Homo sapiens: one gene and its partners. The protein of the gene in region 5 purifies or fractionates together with the protein of the main gene of each other region. This does not show direct contact. Each region holds a gene or a part of one and is shown on either strand. Other genes may lie near its edges.

Region 1 (3,582 bases), on a different chromosome or scaffold from region 5:
CATTTCAAAAGGACCCATGATATTGGGAAACAAGTGGAAATAAGCCTTCAAGGGGACTAACCTTACCTCTTCATCGTGATCTTTCGCCCATTTAAGTTTTTCTAGCAGATCGCTCAGGTTGCTCTTAACTGGAATGTAGTGTTTCCAGGGCTGCAGCTCATTGTAAAAATGTTCATAGTAGATGGAATCCTGCTTCAGCACAACACTGTCACCAACTAGCAAATATGGCAGGCGATAAGCTGCTACAGTGCCATCGATATTTATTTGATACTTATGCTGCAAAACAATGGTAAAGTCTAAGAACCTCTATTAAATCTCCTTTTCTCCACTCTATTCTCCTTCCCATCCCACACATAAACCTTTGCAATCCTCAGACACAATTTGGTCAGCTTCCACGCTCTGCCTTTGCCGTTTAGTAAGTGTTATTAAACAACAGGTTGATCTAGAGCTAAATGCTCATTTTGATGTGCTTCTCAATTTTACAAAGGATACAAATCTAGTGTTGAAGCAGCGAATACAATCATACTGCTGTCCTAAGGCTGCAACATAAGGAAGGATGGATTCATTTGTGACTTTTTGTAATTCTCCTGCTACTTTATTGATTGCAAATGTGCCCCTAATGATGGCATATTCTGAGCCATGTTAACCGTATTATTTATGTATTTATTTTGAGACAGAGTCTTGCTCTGTCACTCAGGCTGGAGTGTAGTGGCGTGATCTCAGCTCACTGCAACTTCCACCTCCTGGGATCAAGTGATTCTTGTGCCTCAGCATCCCCAGTCGCTGGCATTAGAGGCACGCACCACCACGCCCAGCTAATTTTTGTATTTTTAGTAGAGATGCGGTTTCACCATGTTGGCCAGGCTGGTCTCGAACCCTGGAACTCAGGTGATCTGCCTGCCTCAGCCTCCCAAAGTGCTAGGATTACAGGCGTGAGCCATCACGCCTGGCTAACCGTATTTTTTAAACACCCAGACATATGTCTTAAAGAAATTAGCAAGCTCTGGAGCAAGAACACCTATGAATAAAAATATTCATAGAACTGTGGTAATCTATCATCTTTAGTTGCAGAAAATTCAACAGGCAGGAATAAAGCCAAGGCAGGATGGAGCACCCCTCCACTGAGGAAGGTTGGCTAGTATCCTTTCACTTTGGTTATAATCATTTCTTTCAAAAATCTTTGGGATATGCATATAGAAAAATACTGACAATTCAACTTTAACATTGAACAAGGTTAACATTTAGGTCAACCTGCCTCAACAAAACCCATCAAAAGAAAATTTGGTCATCTACAGGGCAGACAGAACTCGTTAATCACTTGTCTTCCCACATACAGAGGACAGATGATGACCTTTTTCCCACCTCTCTCTCTACCATGGGGGACTTCAGAAACAACTCCATGGTCTAAAGAGCAGGGTGGTGCCCACTGCCTTATAAAAGGAGTTGTTAGAAAAAGGACTACTCCCCAGGAACCATGCGGAATCCACATTCTAGACAGAGAAAGCAAACCCTAATTCCCAGACAGAACATTTGGATGAGTTTCACGTCATTCCCCACCAGAAGGCCTGGTAAGAAACAAGTAGTTTATATCTTCCTTATTCTGTTGTGATAACATGGCTCTGGGAAAAAGTATTTGTAAAATGACTTACATGTAAGTATTAATAAAAACATATTTGGAGGTGACATGTGCTTATCTCAAGGGTTAGCTGGAAAAAAATTATAGCTCTATCCAGGCTCCAAACTCCCTTGATGCGCATTTAATATCAAGACTGGGCAGTGAGGGCAGACCCTGGTTGCCAAAACAGTCCCCAGCACCCCCATGTCTCAATATTCGCTCAATTTTGTGCTAACTTCTCCCACCTCTTGAAATTTGCAGGCCTTAATTTCCCTTCCCAAAGCACTATGTACAAATACATTAGAAAAACAAAAAAGATTAGCTACTGATTAAGTCATACCTTGAAGAAATCAAAAAATGAAATATGTTTCACAATGGGACCATACAGGTTTTCATCGTGTTTAAAGAAGAAAAAGTTGGTGAAAGCAGCGTCTATGAGTTCTGGGTGTTTTCTACTGAGTTTAACCAGCTCGAGTCTCTCTTTGCGGCTGTCTCGCCCTCTCCAGACGGCAGTGGAATTTTTGCTTTCCCAGGGAGGACCCGTGTTAGCTTGCACGGACATCATATCCAGACTTACCCTAGAAGACAAAGTGCAACAGATTTTCCTCCCAAATCATCATATCACAAAGGTTGTTGCAAAAGAACTCACCAAAGAAAGAAAACCAAGGCTCTGGGCCAACCCTGACTTATCTCTCACCGGCCCATGGTTTCCAGAACAGAATCAGTCAAATCGTACGTAGGCATCACGATATCCTTGGAATCTGTGGAGCCACACCAGGAAAAGATCGGATGGATGTTTGAATTGGATTTCTTTTTTTCCAAAGGCCAGTCTCCCAAATTAACAAAGAGCTCCACATCTGGCATCTTCACCTAGAAAAAACAAAACGAGGAGCTTATTCACATTTCCTGCATTGGATAATACATTGTATTTATCAATTTAAATTTGAAATTGCATTAATGAAAGGCCAATGTTACATGTTTCAGGTAATAATAATTACCTTGGTTTGAATAGTGGGCAATGTTTCAGAATATGGTCACATGTATAAGTATTCTATGCTCCCTATGAAAGGGATGAAACTGCAAAAGTAATCTCTGTTCTAATACTGCGAACAGCCTCTAAGATGATCAAAGAGAAGGAGAATTATTGGAAAATAATTTAAAAAATAGCACTTGGGACTCTAACCCTAGTTTCCTGCTAGTGAGCCAGATGGTTCCATTTTAAAAAACATACACCAGGTAGGTGGTGGGACCAGGATTTGAACTCAGGAAGCCCAACACCAACAGCAACGTAGTAAGTTTCAAGCTATGCTTCCTTCCTCTACTGGCAAATGGCATGAATATGTAAAGAGGATATGTTTTATCTAGTCACAGAAAATGTTTAGAGTATTTACAAAACAACAGATATACATTTTTAAGGCCAGAAAAGCACTGACCAGTCTGAGAAGCATCTTGAGAAACCGAAGTCCTGAAGAACATTCTCATTTTCCCATGGATTGACAAAGAGGAGCAAGAGAAGTATGACGGTACTCTGATGTCTTAGTTTAAAGGAGGCTTAATATTGATGCTATATAACTACCTACATTCAGAATTAACAGACTGTAAGTGCTTTGAAATCTTGAAAAAAAGGCATTATGATTTTCCATGAGTAGTTTAATCAAGATATACATGCAAATTATTCAACAAATAAATATAATAGATTACAAATAAATATACATTTGGTAAAAATGTTGGTAGAGTCTTTCACATCCACCATTTTAACATTACTTTCAAACCATTCCACTAGAACCCAACAAAAGCCCATTATCCCAAGGAATGGGATTCAGTACAAGGCAAGTCATCTTTGGACTCAGAGTTAGTTTAGTACCAAAATAATTTTATGATAAGGCATTTTTCTTTCCTCTATAAAATATTGTGTCCCTGCAAAAGATATGCTGAAGTCTTAAATCCCAGTGTCTCAGAATGACCTT
Region 2 (3,582 bases), on a different chromosome or scaffold from region 5:
TGCTACATCCTGTCTCCGAGGCTGCTTCTGCTGGCTAGATTAGTCTCTAGGTGGCTCTCCTGCTGGAAGAAACGGAAACCTAAACCTGCCTCTCCCCACCCATTAGTTAGGTGGGCCTGCCCAACACCTTCCTGGGTTCACATCCGGCCAGACAAGAAAGAAGCCAAAAAACTTTCCGTCTACCACTGCGCCTCCTCATGCCCACCCCATCCTATTAGCCTAAAATGGAACGGGCTAATTAGTTTATTTGTATAGGGAGGGGTTTCAGCTGCCTGGACAAAACCAGGAGTCCACTGTCCAAGCTTCTTCTGTTTTCCTGAGCTCAGAAGAAAAAAAGTGTGTTAGACTAAGATAATACCGCCTTTTGAATATCTCGGCTTCATATTTGCCTCCATGAGTGAGAGGGCCAAGTGTTATCTGCAAGTTGAATCTTCTATATTCAAAAATCTCCATCCCTTTTTTCTGCCAGCGCATTCCCAGATCAGCCGTTCACTTGCTCTAAGCCTCTATAATTTATTTTTTTCTTTTCTCTTTAACCTGCTCTTTCCATTGGCCAGTTTATTCATTTCTCAGCTACAGCTTCAGAGGGGCTCACCTTCGGGCTTCCCGCCCCAAGGGCATCTGGAGGCTTCAGTTCTGTTTTCTCTGCTGAGTCAGGAGCCAGGCCCAGCTTGATTTGGTCTCCCGTGTATCTTTGTGTCTCTGTCTCAGTCTCCTGCTAGTGTGCCTTGGGTGCCTCATCAATCTCTTCCCATCCCTGTGACAAGTGGGTGAAAATCAATCCACTTCTGGCTCTTCCAGGCCCACCAGAACTGAGGGCCTCAAATCACAGGCCCCTGGGAAAGGGAGGGGCCAAAGCCAGGAGTGACCCCACCTGCATCGATGTTCTTTGCCTCTGCCATTGAAGGCAACTGGTCATAGGGCAGAGGGGGAGAAGCCAAGGGAGGCAGAAGGGAGAAGTGATTGTTGCAAGGAGCAGCCCTCTGGAGCCAAAGATGTGAAAGTGTGACTCTCAGAATGTCTGGTTCTTTAAGACGGGTTAGCCGTAGCCCAAAGGTAGCCAGCCCAGACTCACCTTGAGGCTTAAAAATCAGTAAGAACTTCCTTTAACAATTAAAAAAATATTGTTTTCCATTTTGGAAAAGAAAATAAAGTTTAAACTACTAAGGAGAAATAAAGGTGAGACAAAATTAACCTGGTTAACTGGTTGACAGGCTGCGGCCCTCATTAGGGTCAGAATGATGGGATTGGGGGGGCCGAGGCAGTGTCACCTTCCGCTGCCCCCCGATCTGCAACCCCACCACTCTCTGGATTTGTGCGTGTCAAGTCCACTCTCTCTGTAGCAAAGGTACATCCTGAGCCTGCTGTTCTCACTCTGGAGTTGACATTGCAGGATAACCAAGAGAAAGCAGGTGTTTTGGTCAGCTATGGTTTAGCTATGAATTGGTTCAGTCGGTATGTTCTGCATTCATACTTCTTTGTCTTTTTTTTTTTTAAACAAAAGGAAAAAAAGTTTAAATCCCCCCTTTCCTTCTCCTGCAGGAGGTGAGTGTGTGGGTGTCCTGTAGAACCATTGGCTTCCACCCCAGCTCTGGCCCCAGCCTCCAGGTTTACCATTCCCCCCCATCCCTCCCTCCATCCCCTTCTCTCCACCCCAAAAGGAAACTCTCTGCCGCCATCATTACTGTTATGTCAAGATGCCCAAACTCTCCATAACATATCCCATCCTCCGACCACGTTCAGTATTGATGACTTTCATTCAGTGTTATGAATGGGAAGGGCGGGAAGGGAGGGAGTAGCCAGTGGGGAGGGGCGGGTGGTGGGGGTGGGATGGAGAATGGAGATCTTTTTTGTCTTTTTTAAAAAAAAAAACAAAACAAATTTGTCATTTAATGGATCCAAAAACCAAAAAGAAAAAGTGAAACACACACACAAAAAAAGATCAAAAATCCCCTCTGCAAAGATTTTTTTTTTCCTGGACACAAATTGCTTTGTTTCCTGTCACGTTTTAATATCAATATTAACACAATGTGTAGTCTAAAACTAGTTCCTTTGTAGTTTGCATGGGATGTGAATGCTGTCTCAACGTGCCCAGATCTAGAAGACTGCATGAGCATCAATTCAGATGTGAAAAAAAAACTCTCTCTCTCTCTCTCTCTCTTCCATATATATCTCTATTTCTATTGTGATAATTTGGTGGGCAGTGAAGCACCTCCGGTTGGTTGCCGTAGTGTGTTGAATGATTGTTTTTTTATTCTCTATATTTTTGGAGCTCCAAGCTTCTTAGTAGTAGCCTGGGCTGAGTATTCTTGAGTCCCTGCTGATGTTTTCGCATGGCCTTGGTTGAGTGTTAGAAGTTGGGCCTCAGCTGTTTTTCTCAAGTGTTTGGCTTGTAATGACCGGTGCATGCCTGGCTTCTGGCCTCATACCCAGCTCTATTCTCTGCACACCAGTCCTGAATAGCTACAGTGCTCAACCGAATTTTGGCGCGCCCGCTTCCCCGGCAGGCTCCAACCCGGCGCGGCCCGGAGGCTTCCCGGGGGCCAACAGCCCAGGACCTGTCGCCGATCTCTACGGCCCTGCCAGCCAGGACTCCGGAGTGGGGAATTACATAAGTGCGGCCAGCCCACAGCCGGGCTCGGGCTTCGGCCACGGCATAGCTGTAAGTACCTGCCTTCCCCTGCCCTCCTGCCTCCTCCTTCCTGACCAGCTCCTTGTGGCCTGTGGGTGTGCCAGGAAAGCCCAACATCGGGGGCAGAGGAGAGGACAGAGGGTCCCCATCAACATCACACCAGCTCCTGAGGGCTGAAGCCTCCGTCGTCTTAGAGGTGTCCTGGGTGCCTCTCGTGTGGCTGTGTGATGGAGCAGAAGGAGCATGGGCAGGTCCGGTTCAGATCACCACTCCATCACCTTCACACAGTGCATCCTTGAGCCACTTCGATAACCCGTCTGAATCTCATTTCCCTGGCTGCAAAACCAGAATCTCTATGCTTTCCTCAAAAGATTGTGGGAGGATTATTCGAAACAGTGTCCCACGCTGGCACGTAATAGGGCCTCAGTAGTGGCCACCTTCCTTGATCCCCGCTTTCTGGACACTGTCATGTGGGCTGGGACCTGAGAGCTGGGAAATGTCCCAGCTCCCCACCAGAGTAGCAGCCTTAGTCAATAGAGCCCCTGATCTAAGGTCCAGTGGCAGCGCTGGAGCCCGGGAGGTGGTGTGGGGATCCAAGCCCTCTCCCAGGCAGTTTCCTTTGCTAATGTTTCTTACAGTTTCCAGGTTCCAAGTAAGTTCCCATTTGCGTTCCTTAGCTGCAGCCTCCACCCCTTGAAGGCCAGATGCATTTGATATTTGTAATGCTCTGTGGTTCTATAATCTGACTAATCCAGGCAATGGAAATTTGCTTAACAGATTTGCATGCTGTTTTCAGATTGTGTTGTTCTTCTCCCTCCCGGTGTGTGTGAGCATGAATGTGCCTGAGCCCACTTGCTCGCTGTCCCTTCCATTTTGGAAACAGAAAATTGGCCAACCTTTGCCCTAGCCAGCCTCAGCATTTTGGAGGCAGTTTGGTTTTGAGCTAAGAT
Region 3 (2,167 bases), on a different chromosome or scaffold from region 5:
CAGTAGCGGGTCCGAGTCGCTGCAGGGGAGGGGGCGGCGGCTGCGGCTGAGGTCTCCCGCCCCCTCGCTGGCTCACTCGTGGTCCTCAGTCAGCTGCAGGCTGGGGCGCTGGGAACACAGCCAGGAGGTTATGGGGGCTCCCGGAGCACACGCAGCCCTCCCCAGTTCTCTCCCAGAAGAGCTTTGTTCGTAAACTACCTACTTTCTTCTTCTTATTTTTTTAGAGACAGAGTCCAGCTCTGTTGCCCAGGCTGGAGTGCAGTGACAGCGATCATAGTTCACTGCAGCCTCAACCTCCCTAGGCTCAAGTGATCCTCCTGCCTCAGCCTCCTGAGACTCTGGGATTACAGGTAGTATCTGGGACTACAGGTGAAAGCAAACACACTCTGCTCATTTTTGTTGTTGTAGCAGAGATGGGGATTCACTATATTGCCCAGGCTAGTCTCAAACTCTTGTCCTCAAGCCATCCTCCTGCCTTGGCCTCCCAAAGATCTGGGATTACGAATGTGAGCCACCACACCCAGCCAGACTTTGCACTTTCTGTTCCCTGGTTGGATGCCTCTTTCCCCAGATTTCGAATGGCTGGATTTATTTAAATGTCCCCTTCTCAGAGATACCTTCTCTAAACCCCACATCTAAAATAGCCCTGTCATGCACAGTCTGGAATTATCTCATATGTTCACTTGATTTTTGTCCTGTGAAATGAGAGAGGACTTTGTCTGTCTTGTTCATCCTCTTTCCTGGAATGGGGCTCATAAATGAATGGGTGAATGAACAGAATGTCATGGGCTCACAGTCTCCCACCATCTGGATAGACACTGTGATGGCCGTGTACACAGTCCCACAAGTCGAGGTATCCTGTTGTTTTTTGTTTGTTGAGGTGGAGTCTTGCTCTGTTGCCCAGGCTGGAGTGCAGTGGCCTGATCTCGGCTCACTGCAGCCTTCGCTTTCTGGGTTCAAGCGATTCTTGTCCCTCAGCCTCCCGAGTAGCTGAGATTACAAGTGCGCACCATCACGCCAGCCAAGTTTTGTATTTTTAGTAGAGATGGGGTTTTACCATGTTGTCCAGGCTGGTCTAGAACTCCTGACCTCAGGTGATCCGCCTGCCTTGGCCCCGCAAAGTGCTGGGATTATAGGCGTGAGCCACTGCGCCCGGCCAAGGTATCCTGTTTTGATAGCTGTGTACTATACCACTGTACACACACTAATTTGTTTAACCACTTTCCTTTTGATGGATATTTCAGTTATTTGCAGTTTTAAAAATAAATGCCTAGAAGTGGAATTGTTGGGTCCAAGGGCATGAATGTTTGAAACTGGGACAAACACTGCCAGACTGCCCCGGGAACCCCTGAGCCACTGTACTTACTTGCTTCTCCCATATCTTGATCAATGCTGGGCAGTGTTCAACTTAAAAAATCTTTGTGGCTGGGCCCGGTGGCTCATGCCTGAAATCCCAGCACTTTGGGAGGCCAAGGCAGAGGAAGATCGTTTGAGCCAGGAGTTCAAGACCAACCTGGGCCACATAATGAGACCCCATCTCTACAAAAAAATTTTTTAAAAACTTAGCCAGGCATGGTGGCATGCTCTTGTGGTCCCCGCTACTTGGGAGGCTGAGGTGGAGGATGGCTTGAGCCTAGGAGTTCCAGGCTGCAGCGAGCTGTGATTGCACACTGCACTCCAGCCTGGGTGGCAGTGAGACCACATCTCTATTAAAAATAATAATAATAGGGCTGGGCACGGTGGCTCACCCCTGTAATCCCAGCACTTTGGGAGGCCGAGGCAGATGGATCACTTGAGGCCAGGAGTTTGAGACCAGCCTGGCCAACATGGCAAAACTCGTCTCTGCTAAAAACAAAAAAAATACCAAAATTAGCTGGGTGCGGTAGCACATGCCTGTAATCCCAGCTACTCGGGAGGCTGAGACACGAGAATTGCTTGAACCCAGGGGACGAGTTTGCAGTGAGCCAAGATTGCGCCACTGCACTCCAGCCTGGGTGACAGAGCGAGACTCCATCTACAAAAATAAAATAAAATAATAGTAATAATAATAAACGATCTTAAAAAATCTTTGTGGCCTGCGCTGGTGGCTCACACCTGTAATCCCAGCACTTTGGGGGACCAGGGCAGGAGGATCCCTTGAGCCCAGGAGTTTGAGACCAGCCTGGGC
Region 4 (3,582 bases), on a different chromosome or scaffold from region 5:
ATAATGCTGCAAGTTGCATCCAATGGTCAGGGGACTGCTATCTTCACAGTGTTTCCCTAGCACATCTGTTAAAGCCTGTTTAAATGTTAGCAAAAGAAAAGGAAAACTTCAACAGAAGTAACACCTGAAAAATAAGCCTGAAGCACTAAAGGCCGGATATTCTACAATGAAAACCACAGAGATGAGTCTGTTTCCTTACAGATGTTTACCAGCAACAATATCTGGTGAAGCTGCAGGTGCTGACAGGAGCTCAAATCAAGTGAGGAAGGTGAAGGAAGTCAACAGCTCTTACTTATTGTAGTTTATCATTATGGTCAGATAGCTATAGAATCCTGAGTGACTATGTTCTGAAATCACACTAATGTTTGAAAATGGCTGAATGGGACAGAGGAGCTAAATGGGTTTGTTTGTTTGACTGTAGGACTTCTCAGAGTCTTTAAAATGCTGATGGGCACTGTGGCTCTCTAATAGTGGGACCAGACATACGGAATTTCTCAAGTTCATTTAGAAACAGAACTCTTCTTTCAGGGAGTAAGTATCTTTGGAATCTGTGTTGGGAAATGCTTCATTAGTCAGAATTCATTTTTTGAACAAACATTTGCACTGCTACTGTGCACCAGACACCATTAAGTGTGGGGGAGAGTATGGTGAACAACAGAATAGCAGGCAAGATGGAGGGATAAAAAAACAAAATGGGGAAAAAAAAAAAAAAAAAAGCCAGCTACTCGGGAGGCTGAGGCAGGCGAATCACTCGAACCCAGGAGCTGAAGGTTGAAGTGAGCCAAGATCACGCCACAGCACTCCAGCCTGGCGGCAGAGCGAGACTCTCTCAAAAAAAAAAAAAAGAAAAGAAAAGAAAAGAAAAGACGACGACGATGACAAAGCTCTCAGGGACAAGGAGTAGGCTTTCATGAGCTATACATTGAGTCTTAGGACGTTTCCTTTAAGCAACACTTGTAGGCTGAGTCAGCCTCTGGTATCATCAACAAATTAGCTCTAAGGTCGAACATACTTGTCTGGGCACATTTTGATCAGTGATGGTAAATGACTGAAACAGAGCAGCAATAACTTCAGAAGGAGATATTGGGAAACTAAGTTGCTTTGTAATTTAAATTATACTAAATCAGTACCCCAGATTTCCTATTAGACCAAGGGCCTAGTCCTATTTCTACTACTTATTTATAAAATGAGGACGTAGAATGATCTCTCAAGCTCTTTCCAAGTTCTGGTAATTCTACTACTAGCAAGATACTAGACAATCATAATGCAAACTTGGCTAGCACATTACCCAATTCTTGTGTGTGTGTGTGTGTGTGTGTCTCCAGAGATGGAGTCTCACTCTGTTGCCCAGGCTACAGTGCAGTGGCGCAATCTCAGCTGACTGCAACCTCTGACTCCTGGGTTCAAGCATTTCTCCTGCCTCAGCCTCTTGAAGAGCTGGGACCACAGGCGCCCGCCACCATGCCCAGCTAATTTTTGTACTTTTAGTAGAGAAGGGGTTTCACCATGTTGGTCAGGCTGGTCTCAAACTCCTGACCTCAGCTGATCCTCCCACCTCAACCGCCCTAAGTGCTGGGATTACAGGCGTGAGCCACTGCGCCCGGCCCCAATTCTATCTCCTAACAGACAGCTTTAAACTCTTCTATGGCATGTTAAAAGAAACAAGAATAAATAAAAGTACAACATTTGGGCTAGACTGCAATAAGATATTTCTCATGGTAAAGACTTGCTGGACAATGAAGGAAAGCAAAGAGGTTGTAAAAATCACCTTAACTAAGAAGATTTTAAAACAACACTATGCTGGAATACAGTCCCCTGGAAACTGCTTTAATGGCAAAAGGTGAAGCAGATGAAGCACACAGACATGGCACCATGTACTGAGTGCCACACTGCCTTCAAGGTGCTTCTGCATATCTGCTCAAAGGCCTCTAGTTCTCCAGAGTCAATGAGCAAAACCACAGGATGAGGCAGTAATGCCAGCACCCACGTTGGCAGCTCAGGCATGGAGTGTCCACAAAACAGGAAGTGGCAAATAAAAGAGAAGGGTTTCTAGGGAGCCCCACATAAGGATGGGCGCTAGGGCTCCAACTTGCTCCTGGGGGAGCCAGTGGCTAGATGACATTTCAGGGTACCTGCCAACCCTTAGATCTTCTCTCTTTTACTCCTGGAATAGCAACGACTATAATTATCAATATTAATGAGCTTCATTATGGGTTCTTTTAGGGAATAAGATAGAAACTGGTTAAAAAAAAATAGGTTCCCTAAAATCAATCGTACATTCCTTCTCCTTTTTTTAATGGAATCACATTTCCCCTCATTTAACCTTCAACACTTTTCTTGTTCTCCCCATTAAGGTCATTAAAATAAATAACAGTTATCAAAGCTAATGATACATTTTGACTTATCAGGCTCCCTGGAATTCCCACTGCTGGAGGGAACTAGGGATAATCAACTCTAAAACATCTTAATTCATTTTTTTAAAAAAAGGTGAACACTTACTGCAAGTGTATCCAATGCATCAACAAGAGTCAATGAGTAGTTCCCTAGTACATCATTGATGTTCAGATTTGAACTGAAAAAGAAAATTAAAATTCAACAAAAAGACTTTATTTCAAAAGAGAAGACAATAAAAGTAAACACCCATCAGAAACTATAATTGCCAGCAACTCTTATTTATTCAGGAACTAATTATGGGTGAATTAATACAGCAAAGGTCTTTCTACCCCCAAAGTAACACTTTCTATGGTGTCCATAAGTAGAATCAAGTCACAGAACTGTGGAGACACACTTGTACCAGAGTGGAAAGAATGCTCACAGGAAGTCAGGAGGCAGTGAGTCATCTCCTCTCTGAGATTCAGGTTTATCACCATAGACAATCTCCTTGGTCCTGTCCAACTTTAAAAAGCTCTGATTTCACAATCATTAGGAACTAAAGAAGAGCCCTTGTCATACGACCCACCTGTAATACTTTAATACAGAAATTAGACACCACAGCCTATATTACACACAAAAAGAAGTAAATACATTAATTGACAGTGTCAATATTACTCATCTGCCCTATGGTTGGGGGTATAAATTAACTTCTTTACACCATTTCTTCATTAATAACTCATCCAAAGGGTCTTGATTATTTCCGTTAATTCTGAGATATCATTTAACATGAACCTAGGCAGGAATTGAGGCCTTTCTCACTTCTTGACTGGAGCTACATAAACGTTTCTGCCACACACCTCTCACCCCATAATCTACACCAATTTTCCATTCTGAAACAACCTTAAGAAACCAACTTCAGGATGACAAGGGTGAAGCTCCTCAGGCACTGTGGTATGTCTTTGTAACACTTTACAAAAAAGTCAACAACAAAAAAACTAATACATCTGGGAGAATAGGGATGAAGAACTAGTAAAATAAAGGACAGTTTGAGAAATTCTGGGGACTTCATTTATTTATTTGTCCCATTCCCAAAAATCCAGAAAATAAGTGCAGAAGCTTGGAAAAAATGATAGTAAGAGAAGACATAAGACAACTGTTTAAAGATTTTATTAGCAACCAAAGCAAAAAAGCTCCAGTTTTATTTCCAGC
Region 5 (2,674 bases):
TTCGAGACAGAAACTAGCTTTGTGGCCCTCAGCCACCTTGGTGCCATTTGGGGTGAGGATATCATAGTGAGTGAAGATGTCCATGCTGTGGTAATGCCTGTGGGGAGAAGGGAACTTCTGTTTCCTTCTCTGCCCCCAGAAGGTTTGCCCCATCCCCCGTGGTCTTGCCCTTCTACTTGACTCCCTACCCTCTCACCCATGGCACTCGTGCCACACCCAGGAGTGGCGCCCAGCCTTGGGCCTGAAGTCAGCTCGTCCCAGGTTGTGGATCTGGGAGGAGAATCGGAGCAGACGCCGGTGACCATAGGGCCAGTTGGCTGAGCGGGCTGAGCTGGCCAGGCAGTTCTCTTCCGCAGCACAGTACAACATATGCAGGGGCCGGTCTTCGATGTAGGCGGTCTCCTGCACCAGTGCTGAGTGCAGCAACAGATCTGATGCAGCTGCACCAAGAAAGGAAGGGGGTGTTAGAAGTCACTGCTGACTTCACAGAGAGGGGTGCTTCCATCCCTCCCTAGTGTGTAAGACTAGTTTTTTGTTTTTGTTTTTGTTTGTTTGTTTGTTTGAGATGGAGTCTCACTCTGTTGCCGAGGCTGGAATGCAGCGGCGTGATCTTGGCTCACTGCAACCTCTGCCACCTGGGTTCAAGTGATTCTCCTGCCTCAGCCTCCCGAGTAGCTGGGATTATAGGCGCCTGCCACTGCGCCTGGCTAATTTTTGTAGTTTTAGTAGAGACAGGGTTTCACCATCTTGGTCAGGCTGGTCTTGAATTCCTGACCTCGTGATCCATCCGCCTTGGCCTCCTAAAGTGCTGGGATTACAGGCGTGAGCCACTGCACCCGGCGAAACTGGCTCTTTTATGGGGAAGAAGTGCCCCTCCAGATTACAGCCCCCTTTCCCTGCAAACGGGTGGCCCAGACACTCCCTTCCCTGGCATGCATCACCCCCTCCTTCACTCACTCTCAGAACAGATGACTCCAGCAGTGAAGCGGGTCCCTGTCCTCTTGCAGGTGATGTGGGTGCCATGATGGGCACACTGATCCAGGGACAGCTCAGTCCCTGTGCAGCGCACTCCACTCATCACCACCTCTGTTATATTCCCAGAGTCCCAGTACCAGGTCTCCTGGGGACATATGCAGATGTTTCTGTAAGGCCCAGGATCCAGCATCTTGGGCCAAGGGACTCATTCCTCAGCCCTCTGCCCAAAACACAGGCTTTGAGACAACAGCCTCGGCTCCCCTTTCCTTCCCACTCACCTGCAGGCCGTGGTTGGCGTAGCCCAGACCCAGTTGCCTACAGGCCACCATGGCCTCCAGGGTCCCCCAGTCATCCCCACAGATGAGGCCCCAGCGAAGGGGCCCAGGTCCCCCTATTTGCACCTCGACTCGCCCCTCATGTTGGCTGCGGCCCCCACTGAGTCGGATCTGTAGTGACACAGAATGGAAGCGCTGGAGAAAGCTTTGGGGTGAGGTAGTGGGAGTCTCTAACAGATGTGGCTGAAGCGTGACTCAGGCACATAATGGGCTAGCAAGTGATGGGTCAGGTGGGAGCTGCAGGAGGGCAGGGGCCTGGGGCAATGGGCTGGGGGCCATTGGACTGTAGATTGGAGACCAGACCTGGATAGGATGAAAGAGACCTCAACCAAGGTAGAGAGGATGACTGACCCTGGTCTCTGCCCCAGTGTAAGGTAGGTTGCACCGGACCCCGGCATCCTGGCTATGTGAACAATCCTCAGCTGTGATGTTCTTGTGGGGGCACTTCCAGAGGGAGAGCTCCTGTCCAGAGCAGCGAACTTCACTCAGGTGGATAGCACCCATGCCTAGGGCCAGATGGCAAAGATCAGGAAGTTGTAATTAAGCATATATTGTCTGCCCAGGGGACACCTAACCTTCCGAAGGAATATGCCCCCCAGGAGCATGTACCTCCTTCCCTCTCCCTCCCACCTCCATGCCACCTCACCCTGCCCCATGCGAGCGCCACTCAGAGCTTCTCGAGCACTCCCGAAGCCCAGCTCCCGACACACCACGCTGGCTGCATGCAGGTCCCACTTGCGGTCACAGACTGTGCCCCATGTGCTGGCCTTCAGGACTTCTACCCGGCCCTCTCCAGGGTGGGCGCCGCCCTTTAGACGGACACGGGCCTATAGAAGAGAGAAGTGCCCAACAGAGGCAAATGGCAACATCTGCACGGAGGGCTAAGCAGACCTGGGAGATGAGTGAGACTTTGGTGGAAGGGAGTGGGTGGTATCAGGTCTGTGGCCCACCCCCTGGAAGGCTCCTCTCTGTCCTCAAAGGTCAGGGCTGTGCTTAGTCTGGGGTTGCCAGGCTAGGGGTTCTCCACCTGGGGTGGGAAAGGTCATAATCACTGTCTCACACACCTCCCCCTGAGGCTTCGACTGTTGTTGCTTCTTCTGGCCACTGGATGCCGCGTAGACAGGGCCTGGCACACAGCTCACCACTGCAGGGCCCCCCCCAGGGCACCTGGCGGTGTCATTGGCACGATAGAACTCCAGGGAACAGAGGGAGAGGTGGGCCTCCGTGCCCACGCACGCCACCCCATGCAGACCAAAGGAGTGTTGCTGCCGTTGGGCTAGCAGCCTAGGGGGACAGGAGTGAGGTGCAGTAGGGTAAAACAATGCTCCTGCCTCTTGGCCCCACAAACATCCTCCCACTTCATG
Region 6 (3,582 bases), on a different chromosome or scaffold from region 5:
CAAGCAAGCCCATCACAGTGACTGTGGAGGAGCAGCGGAGCCAGAGCGTGCGCCCCGGAGCTGACGTCACCTTCATCTGCACAGCCAAAAGCAAGGTGTGCAGGTCAGGGAGTGGGGATGGAGGAAGTCTGTCTTCTGGGGTCTCTGAGCCCCACCCATGACCCCCTTTCGCCTTGCCCTGCAGTCCCCAGCCTATACCCTGGTGTGGACCCGCCTGCACAACGGGAAACTGCCCACCCGAGCCATGGATTTCAATGGCATCCTGACCATTCGCAACGTCCAGCTGAGTGATGCAGGCACCTACGTGTGCACCGGCTCCAACATGTTTGCCATGGACCAGGGCACAGCCACTCTACATGTGCAGGGTACACCTCCCATCTATACCTGATTCTCCCCTCCTGTCTCTCCCCCATTCCCACCAGAATTAGCACAGCATTTCTTCATTCTGCTGATCATTTCTGAGCACCTGCTGCATGCCTGGTCCTGGTCTAGGCTCTGCAGAAGCAGGGGAGAGAAGCATGTACAGTATCTCGGTCCTCCTGAAGTACACGTCCTAGGCAGGGAGACCATAAGCATGGGAATAAATGAACAAGCAAGATAACTACACATGGCGATGAGTGCCAGGCTAGGAATGATGAGAAAGCAAGAAACAAGGTGGGAGAAGGCCAGGAGCGGTGGCTCACACCTGTAAGCCCAGCACTTTGGGAGGCTGAGGCAGGTGGATCACTTGAGGTCAGGAGTTCCAGACCAGCCTGGCCAACAGGTGAAACCCTGTCTCTACTAAAAATACAAAAACTAGCTGGGTGTGGTGGCAGGTGCCTATAATCCCAGCTACTCAGGAGGCTGAGGCAGGAGAATCGCTTGAACCCGGGAGGCTTAGGTTGCAGTGAGCCGAGATCGCGCCACTGCACTCCAGCCTGGGTGACAGAGCAAGAATCCATCTCAGAAAAATAAATAAAATAAAACAAGGTGGGAGAGGCAAGGGCTACTCTAGATAGGGCAGTCAGGGAGGGCCTCTCTGAGGAGGTGACACCTAAGCTGAGACCTGAAGGAAAGGTAGGCATTGAGCAAGTTAGAGAGTTGGCAGAGTGTTCTTGGCAGAGGGAGCAGCACATGGCAAGGCCCTGAGGCAGGAGCACGTTGCTATGTTTGAGGAACAGCAGAGACCACGTGGCTGGGGCTGTGGGAGGGAGGACGGGTGTGGGCAGACGGGAGAGCATGGAGTATGTGGTGGATCAGGGTAGGAATTTTGGATTTTATTCTAAAAGCAACAGGGAGTCATGGACAGGTCTCAAGGTGGGAGGTCACAAGGTCCTGTTGACATTTCCCAAGCTCCCTCTGGCTCCTGTGTGCACAGATGGCCGTGGAGGGCTAGCCTGGAAGCAGAGAAAGTAGGCAGCAGGACTGTTGTGTGAGTCAGACGACACTCCCCACCCTGAGTGCATGTTCCTTTTCCTCCCTTGTCAGCCTCGGGCACCTTGTCCGCCCCCGTGGTCTCCATCCATCCGCCACAGCTCACAGTGCAGCCCGGGCAACTGGCGGAGTTCCGCTGCAGCGCCACAGGGAGCCCCACGCCCACCCTCGAGTGGACAGGTGAGGCCGTGATGGGAATGACATTCAAGGCCTGACTCTCCTGGGTGTGGGAGGGGAGGGGCAGGACTCTGAGCAGGCTTGGTGGGTGCTGACCCCACGTCTACTCGTCAGGGGGCCCCGGCGGCCAGCTCCCTGCGAAGGCACAAATCCACGGCGGCATCCTGCGCCTGCCAGCTGTCGAGCCCACGGATCAGGCCCAGTACTTGTGCCGAGCCCACAGCAGCGCTGGGCAGCAGGTGGCCAGGGCTGTGCTCCACGTGCATGGTGAGAGGCCGGGCTCAGGGTGGGGGCCGGGAGTGTGCTCAGCCCAGGGCGTGTTCTCACAGGACTCTGTCTGCAGGGGGCGGTGGGCCCAGAGTCCAAGTGAGCCCAGAGAGGACCCAGGTCCACGCAGGCCGCACCGTCAGGCTGTACTGCAGGGCTGCAGGCGTGCCTAGCGCCACCATCACCTGGAGGAAGGAAGGGGGCAGCCTCCCACCACAGGTGAGGAGATGGGCCCACCCAGGAGGAGGAGGCCCACAGGCTCTGCAGAGAGTCCCAGCCACCTTCCCTCCCCCTTCACGCCCCACCCCACCTCCTCCTCTGTGGCTCCCTTCACCTCCAAGATGGTGGTCTCCTGCCCCTGCATCCCAGCAGGGAGCCCCTGCCGTCCTCTTGGCTGCCTGGCGTTTGTCCTCCTTCATGCCCCACTGGGCCCTAATATTGGCCCTGCACCTGCCTCTCCCTTTTATGCCCTATCTGTCCCCCTGGCCAGCCGTTGTCCAGCTGCCTCTGGGGCAGCTGACCCATCTCACCCACGGCAGGCCCGGTCAGAGCGCACAGACATCGCGACACTGCTCATCCCAGCCATCACGACTGCTGACGCCGGCTTCTACCTCTGCGTGGCCACCAGCCCTGCAGGCACTGCCCAGGCCCGGATCCAAGTGGTTGTCCTTTCAGGTACGGACTCTCTGGGAATGGAGGGGTGGGGAGGGCAAGCCAGGGCTCCCCTGGGGCCTGCTGACCCCTACTCTGGCCCCAGCCTCAGATGCCAGCCCACCGCCGGTCAAGATTGAGTCCTCATCGCCTTCTGTGACAGAAGGGCAAACACTCGACCTCAACTGTGTGGTGGCAGGGTCAGCCCATGCCCAGGTCACCTGGTACAGGCGAGGGGGTAGCCTGCCTCCCCACACCCAGGTATGTGGGCCCTGAGCCTATGGCAGGGGACCCAGGGTGCAGGGGCTGTGGCGGAGGCGGGGCCTGTACGCTGGGCGGGGGAGGCGGCACACTGCCCCACACGTTCCACCAGCAGAAGCCAGGCCTCATCTCCCTCCCTCCCAGTTTCTAGCATGGGATGGCTCGGAGCAGAGCCAGTGAGAGTTTGAATGAATCACTGAGGCTGAGGGAGTGGTGACAATAGCCCCCGTCCCTGTCCTCACGTACCTCTGGCTCCTCCTGGCCCAGGTGCACGGCTCCCGTCTGCGGCTCCCCCAGGTCTCACCAGCTGATTCTGGAGAATATGTGTGCCGTGTGGAGAATGGATCGGGCCCCAAGGAGGCCTCCATTACTGTGTCTGTGCTCCACGGCACCCATTCTGGCCCCAGCTACACCCCAGGTGAGGAGCCAGGTGTGGCTGGGCCGGGGCTGAGCCCTAGGAGCTCCCAAGGAAGATGCCTGTGGCTTCTTCAGTGGGACCAGGACAGGGGGGCATTCCAGGCAGGCTTTGACCCTTCAGCGCCTGCTCAGAGAGAGAAGGAGGTTGAGTGGACGGGAGGGAGGTTAAGGCTGGTCCAGCTTACCTGGGCTCCCTATGAGTGACTGTTTCAGAATTTGTCAGGAAGCAGCAGAATGTCCAGGTTGAATACTAAGCTGGGAGTCGGCTGACCTGGTTCAAATCCCAGATCTGCCCCTTAGCAACCTTGAACTAGCTTTTAACTTTTGGGGCCTCAGATTCATCTATGAAATGGAGCAGTACTGCCCACCTGCTTGGTCATGGTGTGGTTTTTTTAT
Region 7 (3,582 bases), on a different chromosome or scaffold from region 5:
TTGAAACCTGGATCAGAATTTTATGATCTGTTGCTTTTAGTCACATTGGTATAAAATAATTTAATGAAATAAAGTCATTGGGAGGGGATTTGTTTCATAATTTTTTGGTCAGTGCTATAATACATGCATGTATCTGAGTATCTGAATGGCCTGGGTTTTTGTTAGTGGGTTGTTTTTTTTTTGTTTTGTTTTTTTTTTGAGACAGAGTCTCACTCTCTTGTCCAGGCTGGAGTGCAGTGGCGTGATCTTGGCTCACTTCAACCTCTGCCTCCCAGGTGGGTTCAAGCGATTCTCCTGCCTCAGCCTCCCAAGTAGCTGGGACTAAAGGCACGTGCCACCACACCCGGCTAATTTTTTATTTTTAGTAGAGATGGGGTTTTACCATGTTGGCCCAGCTGGTCTCAAAACTCCTGACGTCAGGTGATCTGCCCACCTCGGCCTCCCAAAGTGCTGGGATTACAGCTGTGAGCCACTGCGCCTGGCCAGGGTTTTTTTTTTTTAATTGGTAATAATAACTTCTTTTTTTCTTTTTTTAATGGGCAAATGGCATAAACCTTTAAGGGCAAGCATATTTTCCAGTCATGATAACAAAAGTGAAAGATATAATTCTAAATATTTGGCTTTGAATATTTGGTTTATTTATTGATGAAAAACAGAACGTAGACCATAGAGATATATACAGTATATAGAGGAGAGGATGATTAGTAATGGACTTGTGTTGAGAAACGTGCACTTTATAAAGTTTTCTAATTATGAAGCTATCCAGCGTCTTTTATACCACAAGCTGCACTAAGGTAGTTAGCTATGGCTAGAACATAGAAGGGAAGACATAGAAGGGCCTCGGTTTTGCATTTGACAGAGAGGCTCCAGCTTCTCTTTTTTTTTTTTTTGAATGTAGTTGATAGGGATGTTGAGATATTTATAGAAAACTTCTACAAGAGAAGTGTTTAAGGCTGAGTGCTGTAGCTTACACCTGTAATCCCAGCACTTTGGGATGCTGAGGCAGGTGGATTACGAGGTCAGCAGTTTGAGACCAGCCTGGCCATCATGGTGAAAGTCCGTCTCTACTAAAATACAAAAATTAGCCAGGCGTGGTGGTGGGCGCCTGTAATCCCAGCTACTCAGGAGGCTGAGGCAGGAGAATCGCTTGAACCTGGGAGGCCAAGGTTGCGGTGAGCTGAGACCACGCCATTGCACTCCAGCCTGGGCGACAGCGAGATTCTGTCTCAAAAAAAAATAAAAAGTGTTTAAACATAGCATACTATTTTTTGTTTTCTTGTTTTTTTTCGTTTGTTTGGTTTTTTGTTTGAGATGGAGTTTCCCTGTTGTTGCCCAGGCTGGAGTGCAGTGGCGTGATCTTGGCTCACTGCAACCTCCGCCTCCTGGGTTCAAGCGATTCTCCTGCTTCAGCCTCCCGAATATGGGATTACAGGCATGCACCACTACGCCTGGCTATTTTTGTATTTTTAGTAGAGACGAGGTTCCTCCGTGTTGGTCAGGGTGGTTCTGAACTCCCGACCTCAGGTGATCCGCCCACCTCAGCCTCTCAAAGTGCTGGGATTACAGGCAGGAGCCAGTGTGCCTGGCCTGTTTTCTTTTTCTCTTAGAGGCAGGGTTTCCCTATGTCATCCAGACTGGAGTACAGTGGCACAATCATAGCTCACTGTAGCTTCAGATTCTTGGGCTCAAGTGATCCTTTTGCTTCAGCCTCCAGAGAAGCTAGGACTGTAGGCATGCACCACACCTAGCTAATTTTTCTATTTTTTTTTTTTTTAGTGACAGGGTCTTGCTTTGCTACCCAGGCTGGTCTCGAACTCCTGACCTGAAACAGTCCTCCTACCTCAGCCTTCCAAAATGCTGGGATTACAGCTGTGAGCCACTGTGCCTAGCCAATATCTCATACTCTGTGTACTCACTTTTCATAAAAGTGGCCACATTTGAATAGTTTTCTTTAAATCTAAAATACAAGCTCTAATACTTTACATTTCAGAATTTTTGTACTTAGGAAAAGGCTTTCTAGGTCGTCACATTCAGTGTATTTTGTTGATGATAAGACATAACGCACACTGCCCATTTTATTTTCCTCTAGGTTTTATGGGAATTAGAAACCTTACGTCTCATAAATCACTTTGAAAAATCCATGAAGGCAGAAATTGGAGATGATGATGAGTTATATATAGTAGACAATAATGGAGAGATGCCACTGTTTGACATCACTGGGCAAGACTTTGAAAATAAGCTTCGAGTTCCTCTTCTTGAAATACTGAAATATCCTTACTTGCTTCTACATGAACGTGTTAGTGAGTATCTTGATGGTTCCTCAAGTTATATCAGTTTTATTATTTTAGTACCATAAGAATTTAGGCTTATCTATATTGCAAATTTGTTTGCTAAACATATAATTAGGATATATAATTAGGACTTCATTTTTTTTCCAACGTTTTTTATTTTTTGAGTTCAAACACAAAATACCTATTTTTGGGGCACAGTTCAAACTTATCTTGTTCAGAGGGTAACTGAAGATTGTTTTTATTTTTTTTTAGAGACAGGGTCTTGCTGTGTCTCCTAGGCCGAAGTGCAGTGGCGCAGTCATGGCCCACTGCAGCCTCTACCTCCTGGGCTCAAGTAATACTCCTGCCTGAGCCTTGTGGGTAGCTGGGAGTACAGGCGTGTGCCATTGCGTCCAGCTAATTTTATGTTGTGTTTATTGTAGAGATGAAGTTTCACTGTTGCCCAGGCTGGTGTTGAACTCCTGGGCTCAAGCAGTCCTCCCACCTCAGCTTCCCAAATTGCTGGGATTATAGGCACGAGCCACTATGCCTGGCTCTCAACATTTTATTGTGAAAATTTTTTAACATAGAAAAGTAAATTATACAGTGAACATGATATACCCATCACATAGTTTATACGGTTGTTAACATTTTGCTATATTTGCTTTATTACGTATCTGTTCACCTCTTTGTTCAATTATTAATAATTTTCATTCTCGCCGGGCATGGTGGCTCACGCCTGTAATCCCATCATTTTGGGAGGCTGAGGCAGGCAGAGCACCTGAGGTCAGGAGTTCAAGACCAGCCTTGCTAACATAGTGAAACCCTGTCTCTACTAAAAATACAAAAATTAGCCAGGTGTGGTGGCAGGCACCTGTAATCCCAGCTACTCAGGAGGCTGAGGCAGGAGAATCACTTGAACCTGGAAGGCGGAGGTTGCAGTGAACCAAGATTGTGCCACTGCACTCCAGCCTGGGTGACAGACAGAGACTCTGTCTTAAAAAATAGTAATAATAATAATTTTCATTCTTGTAGTATGTCTGTGGCAGGGTTTCTCAGCCTTGCATTGGTGACATTTTGGATAATCCTTTGCTGTGGGCTGTGCCGTCCATTGTAGGATGTGTAGCAGCATCCCTGGCCTTTGTCTACTAAATGCCGCTAGCACTCCCTATCTCCTTTGTGACAACCAAAAATGTCTCCAGACATTGCTGAATACCCCTTTTGGGGGGTGAGGTATAAAATCACCCCTGGTTGGGAAATGCTATTCTGTAGTAATTTTCATTAACCACTATGGCATGGCTTATTATAGCTG

The links.
Region 1: the proteins of LOXL3 (region 5) and POGLUT2 purify together in Homo sapiens (affinity purification with mass spectrometry, with the first as the bait; one large-scale study listed by BioGRID). This does not show direct contact.
Region 2: the proteins of LOXL3 (region 5) and MSI2 purify together in Homo sapiens (affinity purification with mass spectrometry, with the first as the bait; one large-scale study listed by BioGRID). This does not show direct contact.
Region 3: the proteins of LOXL3 (region 5) and MSI1 purify together in Homo sapiens (affinity purification with mass spectrometry; 2 studies listed by BioGRID and IntAct, with this or other methods). This does not show direct contact.
Region 4: the proteins of LOXL3 (region 5) and EDEM1 purify together in Homo sapiens (affinity purification with mass spectrometry; 2 studies listed by BioGRID and IntAct, with this or other methods). This does not show direct contact.
Region 6: the proteins of LOXL3 (region 5) and HSPG2 purify together in Homo sapiens (affinity purification with mass spectrometry; one large-scale study listed by BioGRID and IntAct). This does not show direct contact.
Region 7: the proteins of LOXL3 (region 5) and SETX purify together in Homo sapiens (affinity purification with mass spectrometry; one large-scale study listed by BioGRID and IntAct). This does not show direct contact.

Annotation. Positions count from the first base shown.
Region 1 is NC_000013.11:102,788,946-102,792,527, forward strand, and holds part of POGLUT2 (protein O-glucosyltransferase 2 isoform 1 precursor), read right to left. Parts: intron 3,192-3,582; exon of another isoform or gene 3,064-3,191; coding exon of another isoform or gene 3,049-3,063; intron 2,486-3,048; coding exon 2,313-2,485; intron 2,194-2,312; coding exon 1,956-2,193; intron 277-1,955; coding exon 67-276; intron 1-66. UniProt on the Homo sapiens protein: Protein glucosyltransferase that catalyzes the transfer of glucose from UDP-glucose to a serine residue within the consensus sequence peptide C-X-N-T-X-G-S-F-X-C. Can also catalyze the transfer of xylose from UDP-xylose but less efficiently.
Region 2 is NC_000017.11:57,672,465-57,676,046, forward strand, and holds part of MSI2 (RNA-binding protein Musashi homolog 2), read left to right. Parts: intron 1-2,453; coding exon of another isoform or gene 2,454-2,507; coding exon 2,508-2,662; intron 2,663-3,582.
Region 3 is NC_000012.12:120,342,998-120,345,164, forward strand, and holds part of MSI1 (RNA-binding protein Musashi homolog 1), read right to left. Parts: intron 109-2,167; 3' UTR 1-108. UniProt on the Homo sapiens protein: RNA binding protein that regulates the expression of target mRNAs at the translation level. Regulates expression of the NOTCH1 antagonist NUMB.
Region 4 is NC_000003.12:5,194,199-5,197,780, reverse strand, and holds part of EDEM1 (ER degradation-enhancing alpha-mannosidase-like protein 1), read right to left. Parts: exon of another isoform or gene 2,816-3,582; intron 2,573-2,815; coding exon 2,500-2,572; intron 1-2,499. UniProt on the Homo sapiens protein: Extracts misfolded glycoproteins, but not glycoproteins undergoing productive folding, from the calnexin cycle.
Region 5 is NC_000002.12:74,534,335-74,537,008, forward strand, and holds part of LOXL3 (lysyl oxidase homolog 3 isoform 1 precursor), read right to left. Parts: intron 2,595-2,674; coding exon 2,375-2,594; intron 2,138-2,374; coding exon 1,957-2,137; intron 1,817-1,956; coding exon 1,662-1,816; intron 1,422-1,661; coding exon 1,254-1,421; intron 1,121-1,253; coding exon 958-1,120; intron 441-957; coding exon 197-440; intron 98-196; coding exon 1-97. UniProt on the Homo sapiens protein: Protein-lysine 6-oxidase that mediates the oxidation of peptidyl lysine residues to allysine in target proteins.
Region 6 is NC_000001.11:21,853,798-21,857,379, reverse strand, and holds part of HSPG2 (basement membrane-specific heparan sulfate proteoglycan core protein isoform b precursor), read left to right. Parts: coding exon 1-95; intron 96-184; coding exon 185-365; intron 366-1,467; coding exon 1,468-1,593; intron 1,594-1,704; coding exon 1,705-1,857; intron 1,858-1,933; coding exon 1,934-2,076; intron 2,077-2,396; coding exon 2,397-2,532; intron 2,533-2,614; coding exon 2,615-2,769; intron 2,770-3,036; coding exon 3,037-3,187; intron 3,188-3,582. UniProt on the Homo sapiens protein: Integral component of basement membranes. Component of the glomerular basement membrane (GBM), responsible for the fixed negative electrostatic membrane charge, and which provides a barrier which is both size- and charge-selective.
Region 7 is NC_000009.12:132,344,979-132,348,560, reverse strand, and holds part of SETX (probable helicase senataxin), read left to right. Parts: intron 1-2,089; coding exon 2,090-2,300; intron 2,301-3,582. UniProt on the Homo sapiens protein: Probable RNA/DNA helicase involved in diverse aspects of RNA metabolism and genomic integrity.